Linked DNA regions of Homo sapiens. The protein of the gene in region 1 purifies or fractionates together with the protein of each later gene. This does not show direct contact. Each region holds a gene or a part of one and is shown on either strand. Other genes may lie near its edges. The genes, in order: SNX3, AKR1A1 and PPIL3.

The links.
Region 2: the proteins of SNX3 (region 1) and AKR1A1 fractionate together in Homo sapiens (co-fractionation; 2 studies listed by BioGRID). This does not show direct contact.
Region 3: the proteins of SNX3 (region 1) and PPIL3 purify together in Homo sapiens (affinity purification with mass spectrometry; 2 studies listed by BioGRID and IntAct, with this or other methods). This does not show direct contact.

What each region holds. Positions count from the first base shown.
Region 1 is NC_000006.12:108,255,912-108,266,541, reverse strand, and holds the start of SNX3 (sorting nexin-3), read left to right. Parts: upstream 1-5,501; 5' UTR 5,502-5,620; coding exon 5,621-5,782; intron 5,783-10,630. UniProt on the Homo sapiens protein: Phosphoinositide-binding protein required for multivesicular body formation. Specifically binds phosphatidylinositol 3-phosphate (PtdIns(P3)).
Region 2 is NC_000001.11:45,544,690-45,555,689, forward strand, and holds the start of AKR1A1 (aldo-keto reductase family 1 member A1), read left to right. Parts: upstream 1-6,136; 5' UTR 6,137-6,466; intron 6,467-7,746; exon of another isoform or gene 7,747-7,874; intron 7,875-11,000. UniProt on the Homo sapiens protein: Catalyzes the NADPH-dependent reduction of a wide variety of carbonyl-containing compounds to their corresponding alcohols.
Region 3 is NC_000002.12:200,870,766-200,881,125, reverse strand, and holds the end of PPIL3 (peptidyl-prolyl cis-trans isomerase-like 3), read left to right. Parts: intron 1-4,088; coding exon 4,089-4,207; intron 4,208-9,604; coding exon 9,605-9,731; 3' UTR 9,732-10,219; downstream 10,220-10,360. UniProt on the Homo sapiens protein: PPIases accelerate the folding of proteins. It catalyzes the cis-trans isomerization of proline imidic peptide bonds in oligopeptides. May be involved in pre-mRNA splicing.

The DNA.
Region 1 (10,630 bases):
ATATACAAATATAAATGTACATATAGTCACTGATAGGGTGGGTTTTTTTGTTTGTTTTGAGACAGAGTCTCACTCTGTCACTCAGGCTGGAGTGCAGTGGCGTGATCTCGGCTCACTGCAACCTCTGTCTCCTGGGTTCAGCAATTCTCTTGCCTCAGCATCCCTAGCAGCTGGGATTACAGGCATGCGCCACGATGCCCAGCTAATTTTTTTGTATTTTTAGTGGAGACTGGGTTTCACCATGTTGGCCAGGCTGGTCCCGAACTCCTGACCTCAAATGATCCACCTGCCTCAGCCTCCTAAAGTGCTGGGATTACAGGCATGAGCCACTGTGGCTAGCCTACTGATACGGTTTTATTTGTTTACCCAAATGGACTATAGCAGACAGATTATTTTGTGATCCTCACTTACCAATATCATGGTCTCTGGTAGTCTAGTGGCTAGGATTCTGTGCTTTCACCAATACATCATGGATAGTCCTCCTCTAATTCTAATAACTAAATAATAGAGTATTCTAATAAATGAAAATATAACTAGTTCATTTACTCTAATCATTATACAATTTCCCACACTTTAAACATACTATAATTCAAGCATTTTCTTTTTTTTTTTTTTTCTTTTTTTCTTTCTTGAGACAAGGTCCTTGTCTGTTACCTAGGCTGGAGTAGAGTGGCATGATCATAGTTCACTGCAGCCTCAACCTCTTGGGCTCAAGCAATCCTCTCACCTCAGCTTCCCAAGTAGTTGGGACTATAGGCACACACCAGCATGCCCTGCAATTTTTAAATTTTTTGTAGAGATGGGGTCTCCCTATGTTGGTCTTGACAACTGATCTGCCTGACCTGGCCTCCGAAAGTGCTGGGATTACAGGTATGAGCCATTGCCCAGCCTAATTCAAGCTTTTTAAAAAATTGATAAGCCTTGGAGCTGTTTCCAGTTTTTGCCACTACAAACAAAGATGCAATAAACATCCTTGCCCTTACAACCTTATGTACCATGGTCTCTTGCAGCAAAAGTTAAGATTTGCAGGTGAAACTACTCTAATAGTCTTACTTTTGATAAATATTATCAAATTACTTTTCCAAAAAGATGTAAAAATTCATACTCATGTCATTGAAATATGAATGCCTGTTTTCCTACTTTCCTACTGTGTGTTTCTGTTCATTTGGATTTTTGCCATTTTGATAGACAGAAAAAAGTATTTCATGTTTAATGTGCATTTATATGATTAGTGAGTTTGAGTATAGTGGCAGTTGAAGTGGAGGTAGGAGGAGAAGACATGAACATATTCTAAGGATAAGCTAAAATGTTAGAAAACTATCATCAATTTTATGTTTTCCTAAAGTGGCCTAATTCTAGAAAAATACATTGTCTGTATACTGGTATTGCTGTGGGTGCCCTGAGAGGTGTGTCATTTGAGTAGAGTATTAATTATCACAATTTGAAGGCTCTGGCCATTAAGATTATCAATTCGTCTTTATTCTGAGCGCACTAAACAGTCAGCTGATAGTAATTTCATTTCTTTTTTATGCTTATTGTCCATCTGAATTTTCTGCCTAAGAGGCAGCGTAAAATATTGGTAAGTATATAAACTCTGGAGCTAGTTTTGCCTTTTTTTTTTTTTTTTTTGAGACAGAATCTCGCTCTTGTCACCCAGGCTGGAGTGCAGTGGCGCAATCTCGGCTCAGCTGCAACCTCTGCCTCCCAGGTTCAAGCCATTCTCCTGCCTCAGCCTCCCGAGTAGCTGGGATTACAGGCGCCCGGCACCACGCCCAGCTATTTTTTTGTATTTTTAGTAGAGACGGGGTTTCACCATGTTGGCCAGGATTGTCTCAAACTTCTGACCTCAGATGATCCGCCCATCTCGGCCTCCCAAAGTGTTGGGATTACAGGCGTGCACCCGCGCCCAGCCTAGTTTTGCCATTTCTGAATGATAAAACCTTTGGGCCAGGTGCGGTGGCTCACCCCTGTAATCCCAGCACTTTGGGGGGGCCTAGGTGGGCGGATCACAAGGTCAGGAATTCGAGACCAGCCCGGCCAACATGGTGAAACCCCGTCTCTACTAAAAACACAAAAATTAGCCGGGCGTGGTGGCAGGCGCCAGTAGTCCCAGCTACTTGGGAGGCTGAGGCAGGAGAATAGCTTGAACCCTGGAGGCAGAGGTTGCAGTGAGCCGAGATTGTGCCACTGCACTCCAGCCTGGGTGACAGAGTGAGACTCTGTCTCAAAAAAAAAAAAAAAAAAAAACTTGACTCAGTGCCACCCACTCATCCAAGGTGGGAGTGGGTGAGTAAAACTAACCACATTGAGATTCTAATTGTATTAAGTTATTAATTTTAGATAGTGACTTTTTCTGATATTAAGTCCTCCCATCCAGGAACATAGACTCTTTTCTCTTTAGGTTTTGTCTTACATCTTTGAATACAATTTCATAGTTTTAGTCCTATGTTCCCTTTGCTCCTTATAGTTCCTATCCCTTCCTTCCTAGATATTTTGTACTTCTGGTCACTTGCAAACAGGGTATTTTCTTCCATTTCCATTCTAACTAGATATTGCATAGACAAAGGAAAGCTATTACATTCTTTATTTCTGTCTTGCCACTACATTCTCTTGTTAATTCTAGTAGCTTATTATTTCTGGATTTGTATTCTAGAAATGCAATCACAATTCCTGAAAAATAAGGATAATTTTTTTTCCTGATATTTACACCAAGAAGGTCTTCTTTGGCTATACAACTGTGCTATGATGCTGTGCTGCTGTCCCTCCTAGCCGCTTCCCCACTGCAGGCATTTGTTCTGGCTGCCCACTGCTGCCCTGAGTGGTCGCCAAGGAATCAGACAGAAGCATTCTATGAGAATATTCCATGATTGCTTTGTTCAGGTGTCACCGATGACAACATAATACAGTAGTTCCTGGTCTCTTAGCTTGCATAGACTTCAATTCAGAGTCATTGATATGTATTTATTGAGCTTACATTTCTAATCATACCAGTCAAATTCCCATTTGGTCTGTTGCATTAGGAGACATGCCCAGCATTAATATCTAATGAGCTTGTCTGTCACTATCTGTCACATTATTCAGTTTTATTTGCCTCATAGCACCAATTATATTGGCAGGTGTATTATTTACTGAATTGTCTCCCTAAGACAGACTATATACTAGGCTATAAACCTGACTTATCTACCCTTTCATTTCTAGTACTTAGAATGAAAACATCTAGTAGGTCTTCAACAAATATTTGTTGAATTAATAAATGAATGTTGTTTTCTGGAAAATAATATACATTGTATTTAAGTAATGCCTTTTTTTTTTTTTTTTTTTTTGAGATGGAGTTTTGCTCTTGTTGCCCAGGCTGGAGTGCAATGGCACGATCTCGGCTCACCACAATCTCCGCCTCCCAGGTTCAAGCAATTCTCCTGCCTCAGCCTCCCGAGTAGCTGGGATTACAGGCATGCGCCATCACGCTCGGCTAATTTTGTATTTTTAGTACAGACGGGGTTTCTCCATGTTGGTCAGGCTGGTCTCAAACTCCCAACCTGAGGTGATCCGCCCGCCTCGGCCTCCCAGAGTACTGGGATTACAGGCGCAAGCCACCGCACCCGGCCAAGTAATTTCTTTTTATTCCAGTGTTTCTTAGTGTTATTAAGAATGGTTGCTGTTGGCCGGGCACGGTGGCTCACTTCTGTACTCCCAGCACTTTGGGAGGCTGAGGCGAGCGGATCAGCTGAGGTTAGGAGTTCGAGACCAGCCCGGCCAATAAGGCAAAACCCCGTTTCTACTGAAAATACACAAAAATTAGCTGGGTGTCATGGCGCACGCCTGTAATCCCAGCTACTCGGGAGGCTGAGGCAGGAGAATCGCTTGAATCCGAAAGGTGGAGATTGCAGTAAGACAAGATGCGCCACTGCACTCCAGCCTGAACGACACAGCGAGACTCCGTCTCAAAAAAAAAAAAAAAAAAAAAAAAAAAAAAAAAGCAAGAAAGAAAAGAAATTTGCAGTTCAAGGGACAGATCAGTCCAAGCACGGTGGTTCATACCTGTCATCTCAGCACATATGGGAGGCCACGGCGGGAGGATCACTTTGATGCTGGGAGTTGGAGACCAGCCTGGGAATCACAGTGAGATCCCGTCTCCACAAATAATTACTAATAATTTAAAATCTAAAGAAAAGGGGGGCGGGGAAGATCAGGTTATTTAAAGTAATTATAGTGTTAAACTTGACATATTAAAAAATGCAGAAATAGTTGTGAGGGATAACTCTCTGGGCAGAGATAGAAATGTATCGTATCTCAACATTTAAAATCTGCATTTCCCATTGGACCATAAGAGATGAACTAGGACCTAATTAATTGGGTTTTCTCCCCGTTTCTTTCTTTCTTTTTTTTGAGACAAAGTCTCACTCTATTACCCAGGCTGGAGTGCAATGGCAGATCTCAGCTCACTGCAACCTCTGCCTCCCGGGTTCAAGCGATTCTCCTGCCTCAGCCTCCAGAGTAGCTGGGATTACAGGCGCGCACCACCACGCCCAGCTAATTTTGCATTTTTAAGTAGAGATGGGGTTTCACCATGTGGGCAAGGCTAGTATCGAACTCCTGACCTCGTGATCCGCCCGCCTCGGCCTCCCAAAGTGCTGGGATTACAGGCATAAGCCACCGTGCCCGGCCTTCCTCCCCGTTTCTTAAAAAGGCTCATGTGAGTTGCATTTCCAGTCCTGTAGAGGTACGTTTAATACTTTTCAAAAAAAAAAAAAACTTATCAGGACTTCGTGAGAAACGAAAGTGGACACCCAAAGCAGCTTGCAGCCGGTCTACTGTTACTTTGTTTTAGCGGACCGACCTGTCTCCAAAATCGATTTGACCATAATGCTAGGATTTAACTAGGGCTTTAGTTTTTATTTCACTCCCCCACTTTACTGGTTTCAACCTATCAATCCAGACGCGTGTCTGGTGCAACGCTCGGGTTTATGGCAAAATCATCTCAGGCATTTGCTTAACCTTCTCCAGAAAGGCATTTTCAGGGGTTCACAGTGAGACGGTGCACAGGTTGGCACAGAGTTAGTAGGGGCAGTTTTGTTTCGATTTGCGGGCAAATCTCTAAGATCTCTCCGTTTAACTTTCGCCCGCAATTCCCAAAGCCGCTAAAGCCGTTTCCGGCGCTCTACCCCGCCGCAGGCCGAGGCTGGCGCAGAGAGACAGGAAGCGCCAGCTCTGGGCGTCTGGGTCCTCGCCTCCTCGGCCGCAGCCCCGCGGCGGCGCGCTCGCGGTGCATTGTGGGCGCTGTAGTCCGGCCGGAACCTGTTTGCGACCCCGAGTCCCATGACACCGCTTCTCCTCACACCCCAGTCCGCAGTGCCCCTCCCCAGCCTCGGCCGGGCCTCCCGGGAGCCGGGCGTGGCGTTCCAGCTAGTGAGCCGTTTCTCCCCTGGGCTCGGAGGCGGAAGCTTGAGGGGCGCGGGGAGGAGCTTCGCGTGCGGGGTGAACGCCCGCTCTACGTGCTCGTTCTCTTCGCGACCGCTGCGCGCGAGCCCCGTGTCCCCACGGCGGGCAGCAGCGGCGGCGGCGGCGGCTGAACGCGGAGGGGGCGGAGGGAGCCCGCGGCGGCGGCAGCAGCTACAGCGAAATGGCGGAGACCGTGGCTGACACCCGGCGGCTGATCACCAAGCCGCAGAACCTGAATGACGCCTACGGACCCCCCAGCAACTTCCTCGAGATCGATGTGAGCAACCCGCAAACGGTGGGGGTCGGCCGGGGCCGCTTCACCACTTACGAAATCAGGGTCAAGGTGAGGCCGTCTCTCCCCTCTCCCAAGAAACCCCTCCCGCTGGCTCTGGTCACCCCCACTCGACCCGGGAGTGGACCCCCGCGGGCAGCCACAGCCTCCCAGGCCGGGAGCCCCCTTGCAGAGGCGGGCCGGGGTCGTGAGCCAGGGCCCCTCTTCCTGTAGGGCTGGTGTGGGGGGCTGCAGAGCGAGCCCGGCGCGCTGGCACTTGGAGAAGGTGCTCGAAGAGGAGGGCGTGGGTTGAGCGCCGCTTGCCCCTCCAGCAGCTGATCAGGGAATGACATTTGAGTTGGAAAGGGGTAGATCTTTCGAGAACACATCCCTTCGCTGGGAAGGGAAAGAGATGTTGACAGAGAAAAGGGGCTTGCGCAAAGTTAAAGCCTTTTCCCAGTTTTCTCTTCCTGGAGACTTCCCAGAGGTAGCAAGCCAACCCGGCTGCTCCAGGCCCTTCCCGAGCTGCTAAAGTAACCTGGGTTGTGCAGTCTTCTGAACGGGACTTAATGAAAGTTCACAGAAGCCTGACAATTTTTGATAGGGCTGAGCCAGACCAGAAGGGTGATTGGACATGGTTGACTTCAGCATTTTGGGCCACCGCCCTGCCAAAGGCTGAGGTGTGGTGTCACCTACCTCATAATCCAGAACTACAGTTGCTTTAAGAAAAGACTAGGGATCTTGCTCTCTTAATTCGAGATTTGCACTTAATTGAATAAAGAAATCAACAGAAATAAAATATACCTAATTTCATAACTAGTATTTGTTGGCAATAATTTAGATGATTTGAAAGATGTTAATTGAAAATAGTGCTTCACTTTCACTCTATAATTCAGGATTAAAGAATTTGCCCATGTATGGAAGCATCTTTAAAAATTAATTACATTAATTTAAAGATGACAGCAAATTATTAAAAGTTAAGTGTAAAGCGATTTTTCCTTTAATCAAAATTTATATGACAAGCTACTATTAACATTTAAGTGAAAAAATTCTCATTAACTTACACACTTTGTGTCGTGAAAAACACAAAAATCAAATTTACCATCCTAACCATTTTTAAGTGTACATACAGCTCAGTAGTATATTCACATTGTTGTGAAACTTAAGTATTTTTAAAAAATGATTCTTACGTAGTTAGCATTGATTTTAAAAAGTTAATCAAACTTTAAGATATGAAACGAATAGTTTAATGTTTCAAGCCACTGTTGTCTTCTTATGGATGTGTAAAATGTGGATCATAGGCCGGGCGCGGTGGCTCATGCCTGTAATCCCAGCACTTTGGGAGGCCGAGCTGGGCGGATCACCGAGGTCAGGAGTTCGACACCAGCCTGACCAGCATGGAGAAACCCCATCTCTACTAGAAATACAAAATTAGCCGGGTGTGGTGGCGCATGCCTGTAATCCCAGCTACTCGGGAGGCTGAGGCCGGAGAATCTCTTGAACTGGGGAGGCAGAGGTTGCCGTGAGCCTAGATCGGGCCATTGCACTCCAGCCTGGGCAACAAGAGCAAAATCCCTTCTCTAAATAAATAAATAAAAATTGAATCATAGGATATGTTGTCATAGGGAAACTGCAAAATCCAGACTTCAGTACACCTGGGGAACTACATTCATACATAAACCTAGTGGAAAAGTGAATGTTTTTCTAATTGTCTGTAATACATGACAGATGGTTCACTAAAAAGAACTTCCTCTTTTGCCCTATTCACTAGTATTTTCTTTTTTTTTCTTTCTTGTGCTAAAACAGAACTTGGTATTCTTGTTTCTATACTTCCATAGCAGGTACTTCCTGTCACAAAACTGAATTGGAATCTCCTGCCTACACTTCCTCCACTTACTTTGAGTTTATCTTGCTGAATGCATTATATTAAATGGGTTCTAGTATAATAATTTAATCCTCTTTTTTTTTTAATACACCTAATACCTTAGCAAATAGCTGATGTGACACTTAAAAATGGTTTCTGGGCCTGGCGCAGTGGCTCATGCCTCTAGTCCCAGCACTTTGGGAGGCTGAGGCAGGTGGATCCCTTGAGCTCAGAAGTTTGAGACCAGCCTGGGCAACACGTTGAAACCCCTTCCCCACAAAAAAAGAAATTAGTTGGGCGTGGTGGCGCGCATCCCTGAGGTCCCAGCTACTCCAGAGGCTGAGGTGGGAGGATCACTTGAGCCCAGGAGGTCGAGGCTGCAGAGAGCTATGATGAGGCCACTCTACTCAAGCCGGCATAACAGAATGAGACCCTATCTCAGGAGAGAGAGAAAAAAGGGTTTTGGTATAGTCATTTACATGTTAAAGAAAATTTTTTTTTTTTTTTTTTGAGACGGAGTCTCGCTCTGTTGCCCAGGCTGCAGTGCAGCGGCGCTATTTTGGCTCACAGCAACCTCCGCCTCCCAGGTTCAAGTGATTCTCCTGCCTCAGCCTCCTGAGTAGCTGGGATTACAGGCATGCGCCACCACGCCTGGCTAATTTTTGTATTTTTAGTAGAGATGGGATTTCACTGTGTTGGTCAGGCTGGTCTTGAACTCCTGACCTCGTGATCCACCTGCCTTGGCCTCCCAAAGTGCTGGGATTACAGGCATGAGCCACCGCGCCTGGCCTGAAAATAATCTTTTTTAAGAACGATTAATGAGTCAGGGAACTAACAAATTATACACTTACTTTGGTTTGTATTTTTGTATAAACCAACTCACTGGGTGTTAATAGCTGTTAACAGTCATAAATGCCAGTGCCTATGTGAAAACCTAATTGAGTTTTTAATGCATGAAATGACTTTGGATTTCTTTCTTTTTTTATTTTTATTTTTATTCTTTTTGAGACAGAGCCTTGCTCTGTCGCCAGGCTGGAGTGCAGTGGCGCGATCTTGGCTCACTGCAACCTCTGCCTTCCGAGTTCAAGCGATTCTCCTGCCTCAGCCGCCCAAGTAGCTGGGACTACAGGCACGCGCCACCACGCCCAGCTAATTTTTGTATTTTTAGTGGAGACGGGGTTTCACCATGTTGACCAGGATGGTCTCAGTCCCTTGACCTCATGATCTGCCTACCTTGGCCTCCCAAAGTGCTGAGATTACAGGCGTGAGCCACCATGCCCAGCCTGGATTTCTTTTAGTATGTAATGTGTTAACTTAAAACTAAGGACACCATATAGTAAGGAAATTAGGCCTTATTTGAGCAGCATATGATTTTTTAGAGTAATTATAGTCTTGCATTAAGGCAGAGTGGCTATGACATGAATAGTTTAATATTTTGTAATTTTTTTCTTCTTGAGATAAGAGTCTCGTTCTGTAGCCCAGGCTGGAACACAGTGGCATGATTGTGGCTCACTGCATTCTCAAACTCGAGGACTCAAGTATTCCCCCCGCCTCAGCCTCCCAAGTAGCTGGACTACAGGGTACTACTATACCTGGCTAATTTTTTATTTTTTGTCAGATGAGACTTGCTATGTTGCCCATGATGGTCTTGAACTCCTGGCCTCAAGTGGCCCTCCCCCTCTCAGTCTCCCAAAGTGTTGGAATTACAGGCATGAGCCACCTCACCCAGCCCTGCAATTTTATTTATTATTTTCTAAATGTTGCTGCTCTCCCGAACCCCTACTGACTACCTTTTGCTGTTGAATTTGCTATGTGGAAAACCATTTTATGTTCCAGAATTTGGGCTTTTAAACTATCTTACAGTTACTGTCTCATTCTGGTCTTGAGAAAAATTTACAGTTTTACAGGATCTGATTGAAATTACTCTAATTCACAGGGCAATTTTATATGGATGGTGGCACTTAGAATGCAAGTTTCCCAATCTCCATTTATCTTTTGGTTTGAGGATAGTGTTTAAGACTATTAGGATCACTTGATTAGTATCTCTGGGCTTTTGAAAATAATTACACAGTGTTATGTTTTTAAAAATTGTTCTAATGGGTAGGTACAGCAGAGAGCACCATAAATGATTAAAGGTTTAGGAAAGTTCAAGGTCTGGAATTATTTAGGCATATTCAAGAGAAGGCTGAAAGCAAAATTCAGTCACTGTTTATGAAGTTTGTGCTGTAATATAACTTTAATATTCTGGAGATTTTTAAGTTAATCAAGATCTATTTTACCTGGAGACCACTGTTTTGAACAGGAATGGAATTAGAATCTTTCTTGAGCTCTGACATAGTCCTCAGTTCAAAGAATAGATTTAACATTTCCTAGCTGGGTAAGATACAAAATCAAAGCTCCACTTCCCCTCTGTGAAATAGGTGTGCTAATAATAGTACCTACCTCTTAGGACTAAATGGGATAAGGCACATGAATCTTTCTAGCACAGTGCCTGGCACATAATAAGCACGCAAAATTTAGCTCTTTCTAAAGATAGACATTTTCTAAATTAAACGTCAGTGATCAACTACATTTTCTGTGTGTTAATGTTTAGTTGAGTTACTAAAATTGTTAGATTTTCTTGTCAAGAAACCTACTTGTCATGGAAGTATACCTTCATTAAGCAAGCATGGTATAAAAATAAGCTATCTTATTTGGTACTTAACCAAGTAACCTTTGTGTATGTATTTATTTTTTCGAGACAGGGTCTCCCTCTGTCTCTCAGCCTAGAGTGCAGTGGTGCAGTCACAGCTCACTGAAGCCTTGACCTCCCAGGCTCAAGTGATCCTCCCAACCTCAGCCTCTCTACTAGCTGGGACCACAGGCGCATACCACCACACCCAGCTAATTTTTAAATTATTTGTAGAGACGAGATCTCACTATGTTGCCCAGGCTGCTCTTGAACTCCTGGGCTCAAGTGATACTCCCACCTCAGCCTCCAAAACTGCTAGGATTATAGGTGTGAGCCACCATGCCAGGCTCCAAATAATCTTTTAAAGTTGAGCTTTATTAAAGCA
Region 2 (11,000 bases), on another chromosome or scaffold:
AAATAAACAAAATTAGCTGAGCACGGTGGTGGACAGTTGTAGTCCCAGCTACTTGGGAGGCTGAGGTGGGAGGATTGTTTGAGCCTGGGAAGTCAACACTGCAGTGAGCCGTGATCATGCCACTGCACTCTAGCCTAGATGATAGAGTAAGACTCTGTCTCAAAAAATAAATAACATATATTTAAGAAATTAAGAATTTTGCTTTGGTGCATAATCAGGAAAAAAGCAATAAATGGTTCTGAGGACCAAGTCACTCTGGTGGGATTGGGGATTGGAGCTCAGATCCCAAAAGATGAGGTAGCTGACTGCATAATGCAGTCCCCAGGGCCTGGTGCCAGCCTTGCTGGCTCTCAGCAGCCACTTGAATGGGACCACAGGATTTGAGGGGCCTGAGAGGGAGAATAATGCCTCAGTGCACAGGCCCAGGGCCATTTCCAGTAGCTACCTGTGTAGGGACTTTCACTACTTGGGGGAAATGAGTCAGGTCTTGTGAAGTTGGTTTCAGAGCTGGCCAGAGTTTAGGAATGATTCGGCCCTAATAGGGGATTAGAAGGAACTTAAATATGTTCCTTAAATGTGCGCTCATTACAATGTCACTAGAAGGTCCACGCATAAAGTCAAGATCTTGTTCAGGCCCCCTTATCGCCCTGCTTCGTATATGGGTCCTCTGGGAACCTGAACTCTGTTCTTCATTCTCATTCAGACAGCCTAGCCTACAGTAAGCAGGAAGTGCCAGCAAATAAGTCACTGGGGTAGCTCCGGGACAAACTCAGAGACTTGGACAGCAGGCATTTATTTCTTCATCTCTTCTACCTGGCCACATTCCTCTTAGGGTCTAGAAACCCCTGCCAAATGCTAAAACGTTCAGTGAGGGGTGCTGAGAACTTAACCTTTCCCTCCCTCCTGCCTAGTTGTCCAGAAAGGGATGCTCCCTTCTCCTTCCTAGACAGCCATTCTCACTTTCTAGCTCTTCATCTGTTTCAGCCTCCTCTGTCGCCACACAAGGCCAACCCTGCACACACACATAGGTATGCATTCTGCCTGTTCTACATTAGCCCCTCTGGACTGTGAACCTTGAAGGCAGAGAACAAGGCTGGTCCTTTTTTTTTTTTTAAATTTTTGTGATGAAATCTCACTCTGTCACTCAGACTGGAGTGCAGTGAACAATCTTGGCTCATTGCAACCTGCACCTCCTGGGTTCAAGCACTTCTCCTGAGTAGCTGGGATTACAGGTGCCTGCCATCACACCCGGCTAATTTTTGTATTTTTTGTTTGTTTGTTTTGATTTTTGTTTTTCCGTCGGATTTATTTCCTCACATTACAGCATACTTTTCATATGAGCCTACACATATCAGATGGTAACTCTGGAATGGGTGAGTCTGTGACACTGACCCAGCACAGCTGTGAGGGTGATGACAGGCAGGTTAGCAGGTGCGCACAGAGGGGCTTTCTTCTAAATTGGAGGTCAGGTTAGATGATTCAGCTCCGCAGAGCTCATTCAGTGCTCCGTCTTCTGGTGGCTTCCCTTGATTTCTAATAAAAGCTGCAGATGGAGTCACTCAGTTCCACATGGCTGGGGAAGCCTCAGCAAACTTACAATCAAGGTGGAAGGCACCTCTTCACAGGGTGGCAGGAAAGAGAATGAGTGCCTAATTTTTCTATTTTTAGTAGAGATGGGGTTCCACCATGTTGGCCAGTCTCGTCTCAAACTCCTAACCTCAAGTGATCTTCCCACCTTGGCTCCCAAAGTGCTGGGATTGCAGGTGTGAGCCACCGTGCCCGGCCAAGGCTGGTCCATTTTTGTGCCCAGTGAAAGGACTAGGACATAGTATATGCTAAGTAAATGTTAGCTAAATGTATGATCCATGATCCCCCCCACAATTATCCCATTATTTTTTTTCTTTTTCTTTTTCTTTTTTTTTTGAGACAAGAGTCTCGCTCTGTCACCCAGGCTGGAGTGCAGTGGCATGATCTTGACCCACTGCAACCTTCACCATCCAAGTTCAAGGGATTCTCATGCCTCAGCCTCCAAAGTAGCTGAGATTACAGGCGTGCACCACCATGCCCAGTTAATTTTTTGTATTTTTACTAGAGATGGGGTTTCACCATGTTGGCCAGGCAGATCTTAAACTCCTAATCTCAAGTGATCCACCCGTCTTGGCCTCCCAAAGTGCTGGGATTACAAGCTTGAGCCACCGCGCCCAGCTTCCCTCCATCATTTTCTCCACTTTCATATCTCCTGTCTCTTCCACTGGACCCTTCCCCGCTGCTTAGCACGTGGTCATGCTCGCATTTCCCACATAGTGAAAAACTCTCCCTCCATCTGCATCAAGTCACTATTAACCCATAACTTTTCTTCCTCTTACTTTTTTTTTTTTTTTTGAGACAGGGTCTCACTCAGTTGCCTAGGCTTTGTAGTGGTGGGTGCGATCACAGCTCACTGCAGCCTTGGCCTCCCAGGCTCAGGTGATCCTCCCACCTCAGCTTCCCAAGTAGCTGAGAACACAGGTGCATGCTACCATACCCAGCTAATTTTTGTATTTTTTGTAGAGATGGGATTTCACCATGTTGCCCAGGCTGATCTTGAGAACCCCTGGGTTCAAGTGATCTGCCTGCCTTGGCCTCCCAAAGTGCTGGGATTACAGGCATGAGCCACTGTCCCTGGCCTTTACTGTATCCTTGAGAAGTCCTTCCTCTGATTCTCCATGTCTTCATCTCCTGTTCATTCCTGAATTCAGGTCATCTGGCTCAGGATTAACCATTCCACTGAAGGAGCTCTCCACATTGGTCACCAATGATCTTCATGTCCACCAAATCCAAAAGTTTCTGCTGTGGATATCAGACAACATGAATATAAAGACTATGGTAAGTAGTGGATGCTCAATAAAGTGGTTGTTCTTATATTCTTATTTGCTCACTTCTGTTTTTTTGTTTTTTAAAAATTATTATTTATTTTTGAGATGGAGTCTTGCTCTGTCGCCCAGACTGGAGTGCAGTGGCACCATCTCGGCTCACTGCAACCTCTGCCTCCCAGGTTCAAGCAATTCTCCTGCCTCAGCCTCTCAAGTAGCTGGGATTACAGGCACCTGCCACCATGCCCAGCTAATTTTTGTATTTTTAGTATTGATGGGATTTCACCATGTTGGCCAGGCTGGCCTCGAACTCCTGACCTCAGGTGATTGGCCCGCCTCGGTCTCCCAAAGTCCTGGGATTACGGGTGTGAGCCACCACACCTGGCCTGTTTGTTTTTAGACAGGGTCCTTGGTAAAAAGAATTTGAGGGGAAAAAAAAAAAGAGACAAGGTTTTGCTCTGTTGTCTAGGCTGGAGTAGAATGGCACAATCATGACACACTACAGCCTCGAAGACCTGGGCTCCAGCAATCCTCCCACTTCAGTCTCCTAAACACCTGGGACTATAGGTGTGCACCACCGTGCCCAGCTAATTTTTATATTTTTTGTAGAGATGAGGTTTCACTATATTGCCCAGGCTGGTCTTGAACTACTAGGCTCAAGTGATCCTCCCTTCTTAGTCTTCCACAGTGCCGGGATTACAGCCATGAGCTACTGTGCCTGGCCTGTAGGTTCTTCTTTTACGTATTTTTTTTTTTTTGAGACGGAGACTTGCTCTGTCACCCAGGCTGGAGTGTAGTGGTGCGGCTCACTGCAACCTCTGCCTCCTGGGTTCAGGCGATTCTCCTCCCTCAACCTCCTGAGTAGCTGGGACTGCAGGCGCGTGCCACCATGCCCAGCTAATTTTTGTATTTTTAGTAAAGACGGGGTTTCACCATATTGGCCAGGCTGGTCTCGAACTCTTGACCTCGTGATCTGCCCGCCTTGTGCTGGGATTACAGGCGTGAGCTACTGCGCCCGGCCCCTTTTTTTTTGAGACAGAGTTTTGCTCTTGCTGCCCAGGCTAGAGTGCAATGGCACAATCTTGCCAAACGCAACCTCTGCCTCCTGGGTTCAAGTGATTCTTCTGCCTCAGCCTCCTGAGTAGCTGGGATTACAGGGATGTGCCACCTCACCTGGCTAATTTTGTATTTTTAGTAGAGATGGGGGTTCTCCATGTTGGTCAGGCTGGTCTCGAACTCCTCACCTCAGGTGATCTGCCTACCTCGGCCTCCCAAAGTGCTGGGATTACAGGCGTGAGCCACCATGCCTGGCCTATTTTATTTTTTTTTGAATACAGGCTGGAGTGCAGTGGCGCGATCTCAGCTCACTGCAACCTCCGCCTCCCTGGTTCAAGTGATTCTGTTGCCTCAGGCTCCCAAGTAGCTGGGATTACAGGCTCGCATCAATACATCCAGCTAATTTTTTTTTTTTTTTTTTTTTTTTTTTTTTTTTGAGGGGCAGTCTCGCTTTGTCAAGAGGCTAGAGTGCAGTGGCTCGATCTCGGCTCACTGAAACCTCCGCCTCCCGGGTTCAAGCGATTCTCCTGCCTCAGCGTCCTGAGTATCTGGGACTACAGGTGCGCGCCACGACGCCTAGCTGAATTTTTTTTTTTTTTTTTTTTGAGATGGAGTTTCACTCTTGTTGCCCAGGCTGGAGCGCAATGGCGCAATCTCAGCTCACCACAACCTCCGCCTCCCAGGTTCAAGCAATTCTCCTGCCTCAGCCTCCCGAGTAGCTGGGATTACAGGCATGTGCCACCACGCCCGGCTAATTTTGTATTTTTAATAGAGACGGGGATTCTCCATGTTGGTCAGGCTGGTCTCTAACTCCTGACCTCAGGTGATCCGCCTGCCTCGGCCTCCCAGAGTGCTGGAATTACAGGCGTGAGCCACCGCACCCGGCCAAGTCTGATTGTTTTTATGAGGATGGCCTGATACATTAGACATTTGGTCCACCAGGACATCACTTATGTTGGGGAGACAGTGGGGGATAACGGGGGTGGGGAAATGGGAAGAGTTGCTCTCAGGGAGTAAAGGTGTGGGGAAAAGCAGAGCCAAACCGAGATAACCCTGTGTCTTGCCCATCCCTGCCAAGGAAAACACATACATGCAAGACACCTCTCCACTCAAACAGCACAGACTATTTCAAATCGCAGATGTGTCATTTAATTAATACCTGTGTGACTTTGGGAAAATTATAAATAGCCTTAACCTTGCTGAGTCTGTCCAATCTGTAAAATGGATTATGAATACTTTCCTCACAGGCTTATGGTGTGCTGGTAATATCTTCCTCTGGATGGCAGTTACATTGCAAAAAATAATTTAAAAAAAAGAACTGTATACATTTAAGATTTATACATTTTCTTTCTTCCTGGATGTAGAATAGGAAAAAAAGAAAAAGAAAAAAAAAAAGACTGGTGTATTTTCTGTATATATGCTATACTACGATTTTTAAAAAGGCTTGTACGAAATAAAAGAATATTCCTTTTCGGCCAGGCGCAGTGGCTCACTCCTGTAATCCCAGCACTTTGGGAGTCCAGGGCGGGTGGATCACGAGGTCAGGAGTTCAAGACCAGCCTGGCCAAGATGGCGAAACCCCGTCTCTACTAAAAAATACAAAAAAATTAGCCAGGCGTGGTATCGGGCGCCTGTAATCCCAGCTACTCGGGAGGCTGAGGCAGAGAATTGCTTGAACCAGGGAGGCGGAGGTTGCAGTGAGCCAAGATCGCGCCACTGCACTCCAGCCTGGGCGAGAGCGAGATTCCGTCTCAAAAAAAAAAAAAAAAAAGGAATATTCCTTTTCCAGGATTATTATGAAGATTCAATAAAACCATGTTTATTAAGTGTTAAGCACAGTGCCTGGCACATAACGTGCTGGGCGGGGTCTATGGTCCAGACAGGGGGACCAGGCACTTTCCAGCGCCTGGATCTGCAGACGCGAGGTCTTCTGTATTCTGGCCAATCTTGGTGTTGCAGCTGCTCTCTGGGCCTCAGTTTGCTTGAACTAAATGTAACGGGGCCAACTTAGGTGAACTTTGGGAATCCAGCCAACCTGACTTTAGGGAGAGTATGGAGCCACGGATGGCATTGTGAATCCGGAGGGCCGACACCAGAAGAACCTGCAACGTGGCATCTGCTACCTTACTTCCCCCGGAAAAGCGCCTGCGGCGGCGCCTAGGCGCGCGGTGCAATGTGGGCCAGCAAAAGGCGAGGCTGGCCCCGCCCCTTGCACCGCCCACGTGGCCAGCGCCACCTGCCTCATTGTGCCCAGGAGTTCTCCAAACCCGCGCTGCGGAGTGAGTGACCAAGTTCCGGCCAGTTCGACCTCGAGGATCCAGAGGTGGAGACGGTACTACCTCCCAGCTCTGTTTTCCATCCCCTTCAGGTCCTTCCTCGGGAGGCGGCGAAGGCGGTCCACCCTGCGCGTGATCCTTTATGCCCGGCCCCTGCCCCTCCCTCCGGGTGGAACTTCCCCCTCACCGCCAGACTTAAGCTGAGGATCGTTGGATCTCTGGCGGGGTGCAGAACTGAGCCCAGGCCACAGTACCCTATTCACGCTCTGTGCTTGTGCCAAGGTGAGTTTCTCTTGCTGCTGGCCTATCTTTCTCCCGGAGGAGATGGCCTCGATTCTTTACTACTGAAATGTAAGCCCCTGGGGTTGAGTGGAGAGCGCAGAGCACTGGAGGGGACGAGACTTGGTTTCGGATTTGAGCTCTTCTTTTTCTCTGTATGATCTCTTGCTAACTTCCCAGTTTCTCTGAACCTGTTTCCTCAGCAATAAAATGAGGTCCTACATTAGAACTGTAGCAAGAATTGAGATAAAGCTTTGAAGGCGCACAGCGCATACTAGGTGATCTGCAAGTTTTAATTGCCATCTTTTTGTTTGCTCACCTATGTGCTTTTTCCAGCTGCTCCGGCTTTCTTATGCAGGTGCAGGGATAGTTCTCAGAAGTGGGGAGAAGTGGGGATAATTCTCTTACTTAGACACCTGCTTTGGGTCTGAGAAAGTCTGACATGTTATTCTGTTGCCCCAGAACTCTGTTAAAGTAAGACACAGATCTGAACCTTCACTGGATGAGGCTACTGTTAATTAACTCTTCCCCTTCAGATCGTTCATACTCAGGGCTGCAGGCCTGTTACTTTTCCAAGATCTGTTTCCTTATCTTTAATACAGGAGCAATCTCAGTATGATTCTATCTGGTCCACTGGGATTTTTTGCCGAGTATAGTAAAGTGCTTTGATATTCTCCAAGAGGATTCTTTTCAGGTTTTCCAACAGGTAAAGGAAGAAGGTGACAGAGGCAGCGACTTCCTCAAATGTCCTTCCAGCTGGCCAAACTCAACCTGTCAAGATCTCTCCCCCATAAGCTGTGTGTGTGTGGTGTGTGTATTGTGTACATTGTATGTATGTATGTATGTATGTATGTATGTATGTATGTATGGGACAGGTACTCTAGGAGTGAGGGGTTCAGGCAGATGACAGGCTCAGACCTCAAGGAGTAGCCAGGTTTGTGGGGGAAATTTATATATAAACAGAAAAATGTAGTGATGTGCACATGCTATCAGTACATGGAAGTAGCCATCCATTTATTTATTTATTTATTTTCTTTTTAGAGATGGATGGGGGTCTCTCGGTCTTTTGCCCATGCTGGAGTGTAGTGGTGGAATCCTTGCTCAGTGCAGCCTCAAACTTCTGGGCTCAAATAATCCTGCCACCTCAGCCTTTGGACTATAAACTACATGCCACTGTGCCCAGTTAATCTTTAAAATAAAAAAAAAAAAATTCCCCCTAGCAAGCAGACTCAGAAAGAAAAAAACAAATTTTTGTAGAGACAGTGTTTCCTTTTGTTGCCCAGGTTTCAAGTGATCCTCCCGCCTCAGCCTGCCCAGGTGCTGAGATTACATGTATGAGCCACTGCACCTGGAAAGGAGCCAGAAATGTGAAGTGCTAGCTGAAGGATGAGCAGCAGCTAGCCAGGCAAAGGTAGGGTTTGGGGAAGGAAAGTGCACACACCTAGAGTCAGGTAAGTGATGTGACCCTGTTGAGTGTTCAAAGTCTGGAATACAGTCTGACATGAGGAGGTGGTGAAATGAGAAAGATAGAAGCCAGGTTTTGAGAAGCCTGGACTTTATCCTGAATATAGGGGAGAATTGCTGGAAGGGTTTGAGACTGGGAGTCACATGGTTGGATCTGGTGATGGACTGCGGGAAGAGGGACCACTCTGGAAGCCAAGATCTGTGGTTTAAGTAAAGAGTGATGGTCAGCTGGGCACAGTGGCTCATGCCTGTAATCCCAGCACTTTGGGAGGCCAAGGTGGGTGGATCACCTGAGGTCAGGAGTTCGAGACCAGCCTGGCCAACATGGTGAAACCCTCTCCGTACTAAAAATACAAAAAGTAGCTGGGTGTGGTGGCACACACCTATAATCCCAGCTACTGGGGAGGCTGAGGCAGGAGAATCACTTGAACCCGGGAAGCAGAGATTGCAGTGAGCCGAGATCATGCCACTGCATTCCAGCCTGGGCAACAGAGTGAGACTCTGTCTCAAAAAAAAATTTAAAAAGGCTGGGCACAGTGGCTTATGCCTATAATACCAGCACTTCGGGAGGCTGAGGCGGGCAGATCACGAGGTCAAGAGATGGAGACCATCCTGGCCAACATGGTGAAACCCCGTCTCTACTAAAAATACAAAAATTAGCTGGGTGTGGTGGCATGCGCCTGTAGTCCCAACTACTGGGGAGGCTGAGGCAGGAGAATCGGTTGAACCTGGAAGGCGAAGGTTGTAGTGAGCCGAGATCACACCACTGTACTCCAGCCTGGCGACAGAGCGAGACTCTGTCTCAAAAAAAAAAGAGTGGTGGTGGTCAGAGATGGGGCAGTGGCAGTGGAGGTAGATATGGATGGACTAGAGAAAGATTTAGGAATATATATTTTAAAATTCTTTTCACATACATCAAGAAGTACAGGAAGCATTATTGCAATCTTAGGTCTTAGGTTACATATTAGAGCATTCTCTTTTTCTGTAGCTATTAAGTATTAACAAGATTTAAAACCCAGCTAAACTGACAAAATCTGGCCAACATTACATATGTAAGGTGATTTTCCAAGCTGGCTTTTCTAGAAGTATAGGAGAGGCCGGGTGTGGTGGCTCATGCCTGTAATCCCAGCACTTTGGGAGGCTGAGGTGGGCGGATCACGAGGTCAGGAGATCGAGACCATCCTGGTTAACATGGTGAAACCCTGTCTCTACTAAAAAATACAAAAAAATTAGCTGGGCATGGTAGCGGGCACCTGTAGTCCCAGCTACTCGGGAGGCTGAGGCAGGAGAATGGCATGAACCCGGGAGGCGGAGCTTGCAGTGAGCCGAGATCACGCCACTGCCCTCCAGCCTGGGTGACAGAGCGAGACTCCGTCTCAAAAAAAAAAAGAAGTATAGGAGAAAGCCAGGTGTGGTGGCTCACACCTGTAATCCCAGCACTTTAGGAGGCCAAGGTGGGAGGGTCACTTGAGGCTAGAAGTTTGAGGGGGCAACACAGTGAGACCCTATCTCTACAAAAGAAAAATAAGGCCAGGCATAGTGGCTCACACTTATAATCCCAGCACTTTGGGAGGCTGAGGCAGAAGGACCACTTGAGCCCAGGAGTTTCAGACCAGCCTGGGCAACAAGGAGAAACCCTGTCTCTACGAAAAACACAAAAAATGAGCTGGACATCGTGGCCCATGCTTCTAGTCCCAGCTACCTGGGAGGCTGAATGGAAAGGATAGCTTGAGCTTGGGAGGTGGAGTTTGCAGTGAGCTGAGATCACACCACTGCCCTCCAGCCTGGACGTTAGAGCGAGACTCTGTCTCAATAAATAAGTAAATAAATAAGCTGGGTGTGGTGACATGTGCCTGTAGTCCCAGCTACTCGGGATTGCTCCAGTCCAGGAGTTCGAAGCTGCAATGAGCCATGAATGGGCCACTGCACTCCAGCCTGGGCAACAGAGTGAGACCCTGTCTCAAAAAGAAAAGTACAGGAGAAAATACTCTCCTCACCAACTACTTATCAAAACCATAATCTGATAATACTCATAAATGCCTGCAAGGAACTACAAATACTTTCTTTAGATGGCTTTTATTTATTTATTTTTTAGACAGGGTTTCAGTCTGTGGCCCAAGCTGGAGTGCAGTGGTGTGATTTCAGCTCATTGCAACCTCTGCCCCCCAGGCTCAAGGGATCCTCCTGCCTCAGCCCCCTGAGTAGCTAGGACCATAGAGACACATCACTATGCCTGGCTAATTTTCATATTTTTTGTAGAGATTAAGTTTTGCCATGTCCCCCAGGCTGGTCTCGAACTCCTGGACTCAAGCAATCTGCTTGCCTCAGCCTCCCAAAGTGCTGGGATTAACAGGCATGAGCCACCACACGCAACCAGATGTTTTTTTTTAAGGCCCAAATGGATTATACTATCAACATGTTGTCTGGTTTGCTTTAACACTTGTTATCCAGGGCTTTGGTCTTTTGGTGAGATAGAGTACAAAGTCAACACTCTATCCACAAGTTGTGCATCTGCGGATTCAACCTAGAATCAAAAATACTTGGGAACAAAAACCAACTTTAAAAATTCAAATAAAAAAATACAGTATAGGCCGGGCGTGGTAGCTCACGCCTGTAATCCCAGCATTTTGGGAGGCCAAGGTGGGTGGATCACCTGAGGTCGGGAGTTCGAGACCAGCCTGACCAACATGGAGAAACCCTGTCTCTACTAAAAATACAAAATTAGCCAGGCGTGGTGGCGCATGCCTGTAATCCCAGCTACTCGGGAGTCTGAGGCAGGAGAATCACTTGAACCCAGGAGGCGGAGGTTGCGGTGAGCCGACATTGCGCCGTTGCATTCCAGCCTGGGCAACAAGAGTGAAACTGTGTCTAAAAAAAAAAAAAATTATAACACCTATTTACCTAGCATTTAGCATTTATATTGTATTAGGAATTATAAGTATTTAGAGTTGATTAAAATATACAGGAAGATGTACTTAGGTTTATGCAAATACTATGCCATTTTATATAAGGGACTGGAGCATCCCAGGATTTTGGTATCTGAAGGGGTCCTGGAACCAATCTCCTGTGGATA
Region 3 (10,360 bases), on another chromosome or scaffold:
AAATTCATGTTGAATGACATGAAACAGTGGCCTTTTTTGAGAGTGGGGAGGAAAGACTATCAAACTTCCTGGTTGCAATGTTGCCCATTATCAGTACCCAGCTTTTATCATCTTCTGTTAGATGTTTGAACATCCCTGTATTAATATGACTTAATACCTATGGTAGATCACAACTAGGTTAAAGAGTAGTACATATAAATAGTCTTTAACATGGTAAAATTAGGGATTTTTAATTTTCTTTGTTATATTTTTCTGTGTTTTTCAAACCTCTGTGGAGTCATTTTTTTTTTTTGTCTAAAATTAAAAATTAGTGCATGCCTAGTTTTAAAAATCAATCCCACTTCCCAGAGATAACTTCAGTTGATGACTTATTATGTGGTCTTTCAAACTTTGTATCTCCATAGAATGATAACTTTATGATTAGAAAAAGAGCAATGAAGTATCCTCAACCAGGGCCGGGTACAGTAATCCCAGCACTTTGAGAAGCCCAGTAAGGAGGATTGCTTGAGGCCAAGAGTTTGAAACCAGCCTGGGCAACATAGTGAGACCCCCATCTCCACAAAAAAATACAAATATTAGCCTGTTATAGTGGCGTGTGCCTGTAGTCCCAGCTACTCAAGAGGCTGAAGTGGGAGGATTGCTTGAGCCCAGGAGATCAAGGCTGCAGTGAGCCAAGATCATGCACAGAACGAGACCCCACTCAAAAAAAAAAAAAAGTCTACTCAATCAAAATATGCAGTTTAAGTGTATTATTATATTTCCATTACATTAAAATGTACCCACAAAAATTCTGAAAAAAATTCATTGCAGTGTTTATCTCTGGATGATGAGACTAGGAGTAATTTCTTTTCTTTTTGCTTTTTTTAAAACCTTTTTTTAGAGACAGGGTCTTGTTCTGTCCCCTGGGCTGGAGTGCAGTGATGCATTCTTGGCTCACTGCAGACTAAATTTTCTGGGCTCAGGTGATCCTCCCACCTCAGCCTCCAGAGTAGCTGGGACTACAGGTGCATGTCACCATGCCTGGCTAATGTTTGTATTTTTTGTACAGATGGTGTCTCACTATGTTGCCCAAGCTGGTTCATTTTACTTTTCTATTGTAAGGAAATGTATTAGTTTTGTTACAGGAGTTGAGGCTGGGAGGTGATAAACTTTTTGAAAAGTCAACTTTTTCCTGAATGAATAACTAAACAATTTTTTAGGTATTAATTATTACATTAATGACTGCTTCCATATACCAGCTGAAAACCAGAGACTGGCTATGACAGAATCACCTGTGGAACTTTGTTGTTTGTTTTTGAGACTGGGTCTCACTCTGTTGCCTAAGCTGAGTGCAGTGGCCTGATCACGGTTCACTGCAGCCTTGACCTGAGCTCAAGCAGTTTCTCCTGCCTCAGCCTCTCAAGTGGCTGGACCACAGGAGTGCACCACCGTGCCCAGCTAATTTCTGATTTTTTGTAGAGACGAGGTCTTGCTCTGTTGCCCAGTCTGGTCTGAAACTCCTGGACTAAGATGATCCTCCTGTCTTGGCCTCCCAAAGTGTTGGGATTATAGGAGTGAGCCACTGCACTTGGCTGGAAGTTTTAAAACTATAACAGATCATGGCCTTGCCCTCCTAAAAATAAAGTCAGTAGGGCTGGTTAGGACTTAGACTATATTTTAAGGTTCCTAGATGATTCTTTTGCAGGCAGAGTTAAGAACCATTATATAGGCCGGGCGCGGTGGCTCACACCTGTAATCCCAGCACTTTGGGAGGCCGAGGCGGGCGGATCACGAGGGCAGGAGATCAAGACCATGCTGGCTAACACAGTGAAACCCCGTCTCTGCCAAAAAATACAAAAAATTAGCCAGGTGTGGTGGTGGGTGCCTGTAGTCCCAGCTACTTGGGAGGCTGAGGCAGGAGAATGGCCTGAACCCGGGAGGCAGTGCTTGCAGTGAGCCGAGATCGTGCTGCTGCACTCCAGTCTGGGCGACAGAGCGAGACTCCGTCTAAAAAAAAAAAAGAACCATTATATTATACACCTTATACACCAAGATTGTGGATATGTATTGACTCTTCATATATTCTGGCCCAGGAATTCCATTCCCAAATGTTTACTCAAGAGAAACTTGTAAGTTTGCACCAAGAGACATGTACAGGAGTGTTCTGATGTACTGTTTGTAATAGCAAAAGTCTAGAAACAACCCAAATGTCCACTGATTGTAGATGAATCACTATGTAGATTGTGGATAAATTGTAGTATATTCAGTAGTGAAATATCACATAGTAGTAAAAAAATAGTAATAAACTATGGCTATATGTACATGTATAACCTTAGAAATGTAACAATGTTATTTGTAGAAAGCATTTCCCAGAAGACTAAAATGTTACGATGTAATTATATTCAGAAGGAAAAGGAAAGAATGTGTTGTTTAGGCATGTGTAAATGTGTTAGGGCTGGGCACAGTGGCTCACTCTTATAATCCCAGCACTTTAGGGGGCCGAGGTGAGAGGAACAAGTACTTGAGGCCAGGAGTTTGAGATCAGCCTGAGCAACATATTGAGCCCTCATCTCTACTAAAAGTTAAAAAATTAGCCAGGTATGGAGGTGTACATCTGTAGTCTCAGCTACTCAGGAGGCCAAGGTGGAAGGATTGCTCAAGCCTAGGAGGTCAAGGCTACAGTGAGCTATGATTGCACCACTGCACTCTAACCTGGGTGACAGAGTGAGACCCTGTCTCTAAAAAAAAAAAAAAATGAAAAAATGAAAAAAAAAAGGTATTAGAATAGTGGTTACCTCTTGTAGAGGCTGAGGTAATAAATGGAGAGGAGCACATGGATATATGTAATTAATTGGTAACTTTTATTTTTTCTTGAGCTCCCATTATTCAATGAATTGGTAAATTTTAACTCTGAAAGCTGGGAAATATGTTAATGGGTGCTTATTTTATTAACTTACATTTTTATTAACTATATTTTTGTGTATGTATTAAATATTGTGTATGTATTAAATATTACATGTGTATTTAATATTACATTTGATTGGTGGACACCTTTTAGGGAGACAAGCATTAATATTTTGATATAGGTGCTTCTCTATGACTTATTAGCGTCACCCAATGAATAGCTAAAGCTAGAGTAATTGGTGGAGTTGTAGTGTATTACAGGCACCTCCCTGTAACATAGTTCACAGTTACATCTTCATTCTTATCAGTAAGGTCCTTTTAATTTCTATACACTGTCTCTTGTAAACAAATACTATCATGATAGTAGAGCTAGGTGAGACCTTTCTTAGATCGTTCAGTCCTGGGGTTATAAACTGACTGCCCATGAGTGGAACACCCACAGATGCATTATCTGTGGCCCTTAGTTAAAAAATATATATTTAATGTCATTAATCAAGAGATAGCCTATTCATTTTGCCAGACTTCATCTCTCTCTAATGTTTACATTCTGCCCAATTGTCAGTTTATCTGCTTGACCCTTGTGAGCATCTGAGTTATAAATAGACCCTTGAACTAGTCCAGCCTCCCTTGTTTTACAGATAAAGAAACTAGCAAGAGTCCATTGTATGTGAGAAGAGATTGTGGGCATTTTGGTTTTGTTGCCTGCCTGATCATTTCATTCCAGCACACTATTCCTTAATATAAATGTAAGGATTATTTCTATTATTTGTTGGTATTGCAAAAAGTGTCCATGGCTGTATTTCTTCAAAGTGAAAATGAAATTAATTGAGAAATATTATTTGATATATTAACCTTTTACATACAAGTTTTCAAAGGTACAGAAAAGGCAGAAACTGAACATTTGGATTATCCCTAATAGAGAGAAGTTGGTTAAATGTTTTCTTGCTCCCTTAAATATTGTGAAGGTAAAGATTGAATGTCTTGGCTGGGTGTGCTGATTCACACCTGTAATCCCAACACTTTGGAAGCTAAGGCAGGAGGATCACTTGAGCCTAGGAGTTAGAGACCAGCCTGAGCAACATAGTGAGACCCCAATCTCAAAATATTTTTAAAAAAGAAAACAAAGGTGTGCCTGTCTTGTTTCAATACTATATTTGGGATGGTTATATAAAAACACAGTTAATACTTTGATGTGTCTTTTTCAGCACAATGTTAGAGGTGTTGTATCTATGGCTAATAATGGCCCGAACACCAATGGATCTCAGTTCTTCATCACCTATGGCAAACAGCCACATTTGGACATGAAATACACCGTATTTGGAAAGTGAGTATTCTGGTTATGGTTTTCTTTTAGCATTTCAATGCAAGTGGTGCATATGCTTAGCTGTGACAGTAGCATAACTAATATTGAAAAGAGTGAGGCCGAGCGCAGTGCCTCACACCTGTAATCCCAGCACTTTGGGAGGCCAAGGTGGGCAGATTGTCTGAGGTCAGGAGTTCGAGACCAGCCTGGCCAATGTGGCAGAACCCCTGTCTCTACTAAAAATATTTTAAAAAATTAGTTGGATGTGGTGGCACACACCTGTAGTCCCAGCTACTCAGGAGGCTGAAGCAGGAGAATTGCTTGAACCTGGGAGGCGGAAGTTACAGTGAGCCGTGATCATGCCATTGCACTCCAGCCTGGGCGACAGAGTGAGACTCTGCCTCAAAAAAAAAAAAAAAAAATGAAAAGAAAAGAAAGAAAAGAAGAGTGGTGTGAGAGCTAAACGTACCTGGAGTTTAAGTCTACCACTTAGCAACCCTGTGACCTTGGGAAAGTTATAATCTCCCTGAGCTTTATTTTCCTTATTTTGTAAAAGAGGCCAGTAATTTTTCAATATTGTTATGCAAATTAACATAGTATATCTATTTTCTTTTTCTTTTTCTTTTTTTGAGACGAAAGGCTCTGTCGCCAGGCTGGAGTATGGTGCAGTAGCACAGTCATGGCTCATTGCAGCCTCAACCTCCTGGTCTCAAGTGATCTTCTCACCTCAGCCTCTTGAGTAACTGGAACCACAAATGTGTACCATCATGCGCAGCTACTTTAAAAAAAAAAAAAACAAAAAAAACACTTTTTTTTTAGAGACATGGTCTCACTATGTTGCCCAGGCTGGTCCATTTTCATTAATGATAGCATTTCACAGCAACTAACAGATCTGAAAAATAGTGGCTTAAACAAGATGGACTGGCATGGTGGTTCCATTTTGTTACCAGTGTTCTAGGCGCCTCTGTCATAATATTGGCAGCACAGCTCTTATCAAAACTTCTGTGTATCAGGGAGGAAAGGGGAGGAAAGACAAAAGGTGCTTGCCAGCTGATTCACCTTTTTTAATTAACAGAACTTTCCCAGGCCTGTAATCCCAGTGCTTTGGGAGGCTGAGACAGGAGGATCACTTGAGGCCAGGAGTTCAAGACCAGCCTGTGGAACATAGCAGAACCCATCTCTATAAAAAAAATTTAAAAATTAGCCAAGTGTGGTGACACACACCTGTAATCCCAACTACTCAGGAGGCTGAGGTGGGAGAATCACTTGAGCCCAGGAGTTCCAGGCTGCATGAGCTGAGATCACACTTCTGTACTCCAGCCTGGGCAACAATGATACCCTATCTCTAAAAAAAAAAAGATAGAAAAAAAGAAAAGCCGGGTGCGGTGGCTCACACCTGTAATCCCAGCACTTTGGGAGGCCAAGGAGGGCAGATCATGAGGTCAGGAGATCAAGACCATCCAGGCCAACATGGTGAAACCCCATCTCTACTAAAAATACAAAAATTAGCTGGGTGCGGTGGTGCGTGCCTGTAATTCCAGCTACTCAGGAAGCTGAGGCAGGAGAATGGCTTGAACCCTGGAGGTGGAGATTGCAGTGAGCCAAGATTGCGCCACTGCACTCCAGCCTGGTGACAAAGCGAGACTCCGTCTCAAAAAAAAAAAACTTTCCCAGAAGACCCAGAACTTAGTAATGTGACCACTCCTTACCTACAATGGAGGGTAGAAAATGTATTTCAGCCACATTGCCACCCTTACTAAAATTAGATTTCTCCGAGTAAGAAGAATGGCTCCTAGGAAGGTATTTCACAGTTTCTGCCAGGGTATCTATTAAGAGTACTATGTCTGGGAGTTGCTTTTATAAATCAGTGGGAAGTCAATTTGTCTGTTCGTTCAACAAATAATTATCATGCTTAATAAACCAAGGCACAATTCTAGAGTTTGTTCTATTTAATAGTTTGGATGCCAAATTAGGTTAATTAAAAATAGAGGACTCCCAGTCTAGGTAACATAGTGAAACCCCGTCTCTACAAAAAAATTTAAAAATTATCCAGGTGTGGTGGCTCACACCTATGGTCCCAGCTACTTGGGAGGCTGAAGTGAGAGGATTGCTGGGCTCAGGGTGTCAAGGCTGCAGTGAGATCTAGACAGATCTTTTCTTTTTCATTCCATATACATGTATCTAATTTACACATTAATAATAATCAAGGAGAAAAGAAATATTACAACATCTAGTAGTTTTTTTATGTTTGTAAATAACCCAGTTTCCCTCTTATTTTCTCCCTTAACCAACATCATTCAAAATTATTGTTCAGTTATTACCAGGACTCATTTTACTGGATTTGCGACAAAACTGTAGAGTTTAGAACAAAGATTAACCTTAGGTTCATTAATTCCTTGTTTGTTGTATACAGATGCACACACATTTTTCTGGGAAGATGATCCAGTAACTTTCCTCTAGTTCTCCAAGGGGTCCGTTTCCCATATACTTGACTCTACTTAACTGCCTCAGTTCTACCTGCTGGGTTTTTTTAACTTTTTACCTGAGACCTATGTTTTCTACCTCCTCTGTTTCTCTTACTGACCTAGAAGGTGGGATAGCCTTTAAGACTTATAATTTAAAGACTTAAATGTCTATATTTAGGGGTAAAATCAAAATGTTTTGGTTGAAGTACCCATTTTGTGAAAATGCAAAATAAAATGCAAATCTGCTAATTTTTTTTTTTTTTTTTTTTTGAGACAGAGTCTCACTCTGTCGCCCAGGCTGGAATGCAGTGGCGCCATCTCAGCTCACTGCAAGCTCACCCTCCTGGGTTCACGCCATTCTCCTGCCTCAGCCTCCCAAGTAGCTGGGACTACAGGCGCCCGCCACCGCGCCCGGCTAATTTTTTGTATTTTTAGTAGAGACGGGGTTTCACCATGTTAGCCAGGATGGTCTCAATCTCCCGACCTCGTGATCCGCCCGCCTTGGCCTCCCAAAGTGCTGAGATTACAGGCGTGAGCCACTGCGCCAGGCCTACAAATCTGTTAATTTTTTAAAGTACATACCAGTGGTTGAGAATCCCTAATCTGAAAATTAAAAATTAGGAACTTTTTGAGCACTGACATGATGCCACAAGTAGAAAATTCCACATCTGACCTCATGTGACGGGTTGCAGTCAAAATGCAGTCAGATGACCAGGTGCAGTGACTCACGCTTGTAATCCTAGCACTTTGGGAGGCCAAGGCGGGCAGATCACGAGGTCAAGAGATCAAAAGCCACTCTTTCTTAGCAAATGTTTTAGACTGAAATTTCCAAAACTTGTATTTGAAGAATAGCTCTCAATATATTTTTTCTTGGTGGTAACATGAAGTGGGATTGCTGGAGGCTGTTAACTGTCAGTCTTCTCTTCTCCTATTTTTATTACTTCTTGTTGTTATCCAGAAGCAAAAAGTAGAAATGCCATAATTAGGCCAGACGTGGTGGCTCATGCCTATAACCCCAGCACTTTGGGAGGCTGACGTGGGCAGATCACTTGAGGTCAAGAGTTTGAGACCAGCCTGGCCAATGTGGTGAAATCCCATCTCTACTAAAAACACAAAAATTAGCTGGGCATGGGGGCATGTGCCTGTAGTCCCAGCTGCTTGGGAGGCTGATGCAGAATTGCTTGAACCTGAAGGAAGAGGCTACAATGAGTCGAGATAGTGCTACTGCACTCCAACCTGGGCAATGGAAGTGAGACTCCATCTCAAAAAAAAAAAAAAAGAAAGAAATACTATAATTAAACAATTAACTGCTGGGCTTGGTGGCTCATGCCTGAATCCCAACACTTTGGGAGGCCAAGGCGGGCGGATCACCTGAGGTCAGGCCAGACCAGCCTGGCCAACATGCTGAAACTCCGTCTCTACTAAAAATACAAAAATTAGCCAGGCGTGGTGGTAGGCTCCTATAATCCCAGCTACTTGGGAGGCTGAGGCAGGAGAATTGCTTGAACCCAGGAGGAGAGGTTGCAGTGAGCCGAGATCACACCATTGCACTCCAGTCTGGGGGACCAGAGCGAGACTTCATCTCAAAAAAAAAAAAAACAAGTACAAAGTGGAGTGGTCACCTACTTTAGGACTCTCATTGTAGGGCAGTATTGCTAATAGTGTCATCTACATACTTTCTCCATGTATTTCCTGTAGCAAAGAAATCTTTATGACTAGTGTGTTGTAATAAGACATACATATTTGGACTTCATCCGTGGTTTCCAGCATAGTTCTTTTAAAAACCTTGCAATTTCCTGAGTGACAGGAGTGAAAGGAATATTTTATTGTTCATAATAAACCCCATTCAACCATACCTGAGTTTATGCTAATGAGGTGACTCTTGGTGGGGTTCTAGATAGCTTCAGTATGGAGGGCTGGTTGCCAGAGGAATCAGCCATGTATTTTTAGAGGGGTGGAACATTCAGTGACCTCCTATTCTTGACCTCTGGGAAGGAGAGAAGGGCTGGAGATTGAGTTCCAGTCACTAGTGGCCAGTGATTTAATTAATCGTGCCTACCTAATGTGCCCTCCGTAAAAACCCTAAACAGGGTTTGAGAGCTTCCAGGTTGGTGAACACAAGTAGATACTAAGAGGGTAACACACCCCGAGAAGAGCATGGAAGCGCTGTGCCCCTCTCTCAGACTTTGCCCTATGCATCTCCTCCATTTGGTTGTTCCTGAGTTGTAACCTTTATAATAGCCCATAGTAATAAATAAAGTGCTTTCCTAAGTTCTATGAGCCATTTTTGAAAATTATTGAACAGAGCTGGGGGGCATGAAAAATCCCAAATTATATCATGGTTAGTCAGATAGTACAGATCACAATCGGGACTTGGAACTGGCATCCGAAGTGGTAGGGGCTGTCTTGTGGGATTAACCGGGGTCTCTGTTCACTCCTTGTAGTTAGTGTCACAATTAAATTATAGGGCCAGGTGTGGGGGCATGCATTTGTAGTCCCAGTGAGATCCTGTCTTTAAAAAATTAAATAAAATTTTGAAAAAATAATCAAGTTGTGGGATACCCAGAGAATTGGAGAACTGGGAAAACCCACACATTTGGTGTTGGAAGTATGAAAGTGTAGAAAAACAGTTTGTTTTCCCTTTAACTGGTTATATTAGTCCCATTTGTAGCTGTTCTCTGTCACTGTATGAATGGGGTAGAATATAATTTTAGGTACTATGGTGGAAATATTCCTACCCTTTGTATTGTTGACTAAGGGCATAAAAGTAAATTATTTCTGAATTTTGATCCATATCTATGATGGAAAATCAACATTTTGTTGTACATTCAACTAGAGAACTCAGAGATCTGTAAGACTTGATTATTTTTTAAGGAGACTGTAATTGTCATAGATATGGATATCATGTTTCAATTTAAGGAAATTTTCATATGTTATGTTGTTTCTCTTTCAGGGTAATAGATGGTCTGGAAACTCTAGATGAGTTGGAGAAGTTGCCAGTAAATGAGAAGACATACCGACCTCTTAATGATGTACACATTAAGGACATAACTATTCATGCCAACCCATTTGCTCAGTAGCTATGATAGACCTGGACAAATAACTTGACAAATTGCTGGAACACACTTATTGTGGTTTACCCGGTTTTAATTATGTCAGAGATTGCATCATCCTTCTGCTTGTTTACAACTATGATCTTCTATGAAATGGTGGTACCAAGGGGCGCCCAACAGCTTTTATCCCCATTCTTAGAGCATATTCTTTATTATAATGATTATCCAACATATTTCTTTAATTTTAATACAAAAAATACATCATTTAATTTTTGTTACATATGAACATTCATTTTTAAATGCTCAGCCTCAAGTGCAGGCATTTTTGAGTGGCCTGATTACATATTCCTCCCACAGCAAGTCCGTATCCTGGAAGTGTTATTTTATAATAAAATTTAAAAAGTTTTAAAGAATTAAATCGTAGGACAAATTAATTAAAATATTGTGTAAAATTACCTTCAGGCTATGTGTATAAGGTATATATGAAACGTAAATGAACTTCATGTTTAAATTTGGGTCTCATCTCCAAGATATCTTATTATGTATATGCAAGTATCCCCAAATCTGAAAATTTGGGTATTCCTGAAACTGATACTAACGGTAAGAGCTCTACCATTAATTATTCACTTTATACAGTTAGAAAGAGGAGGGACAGG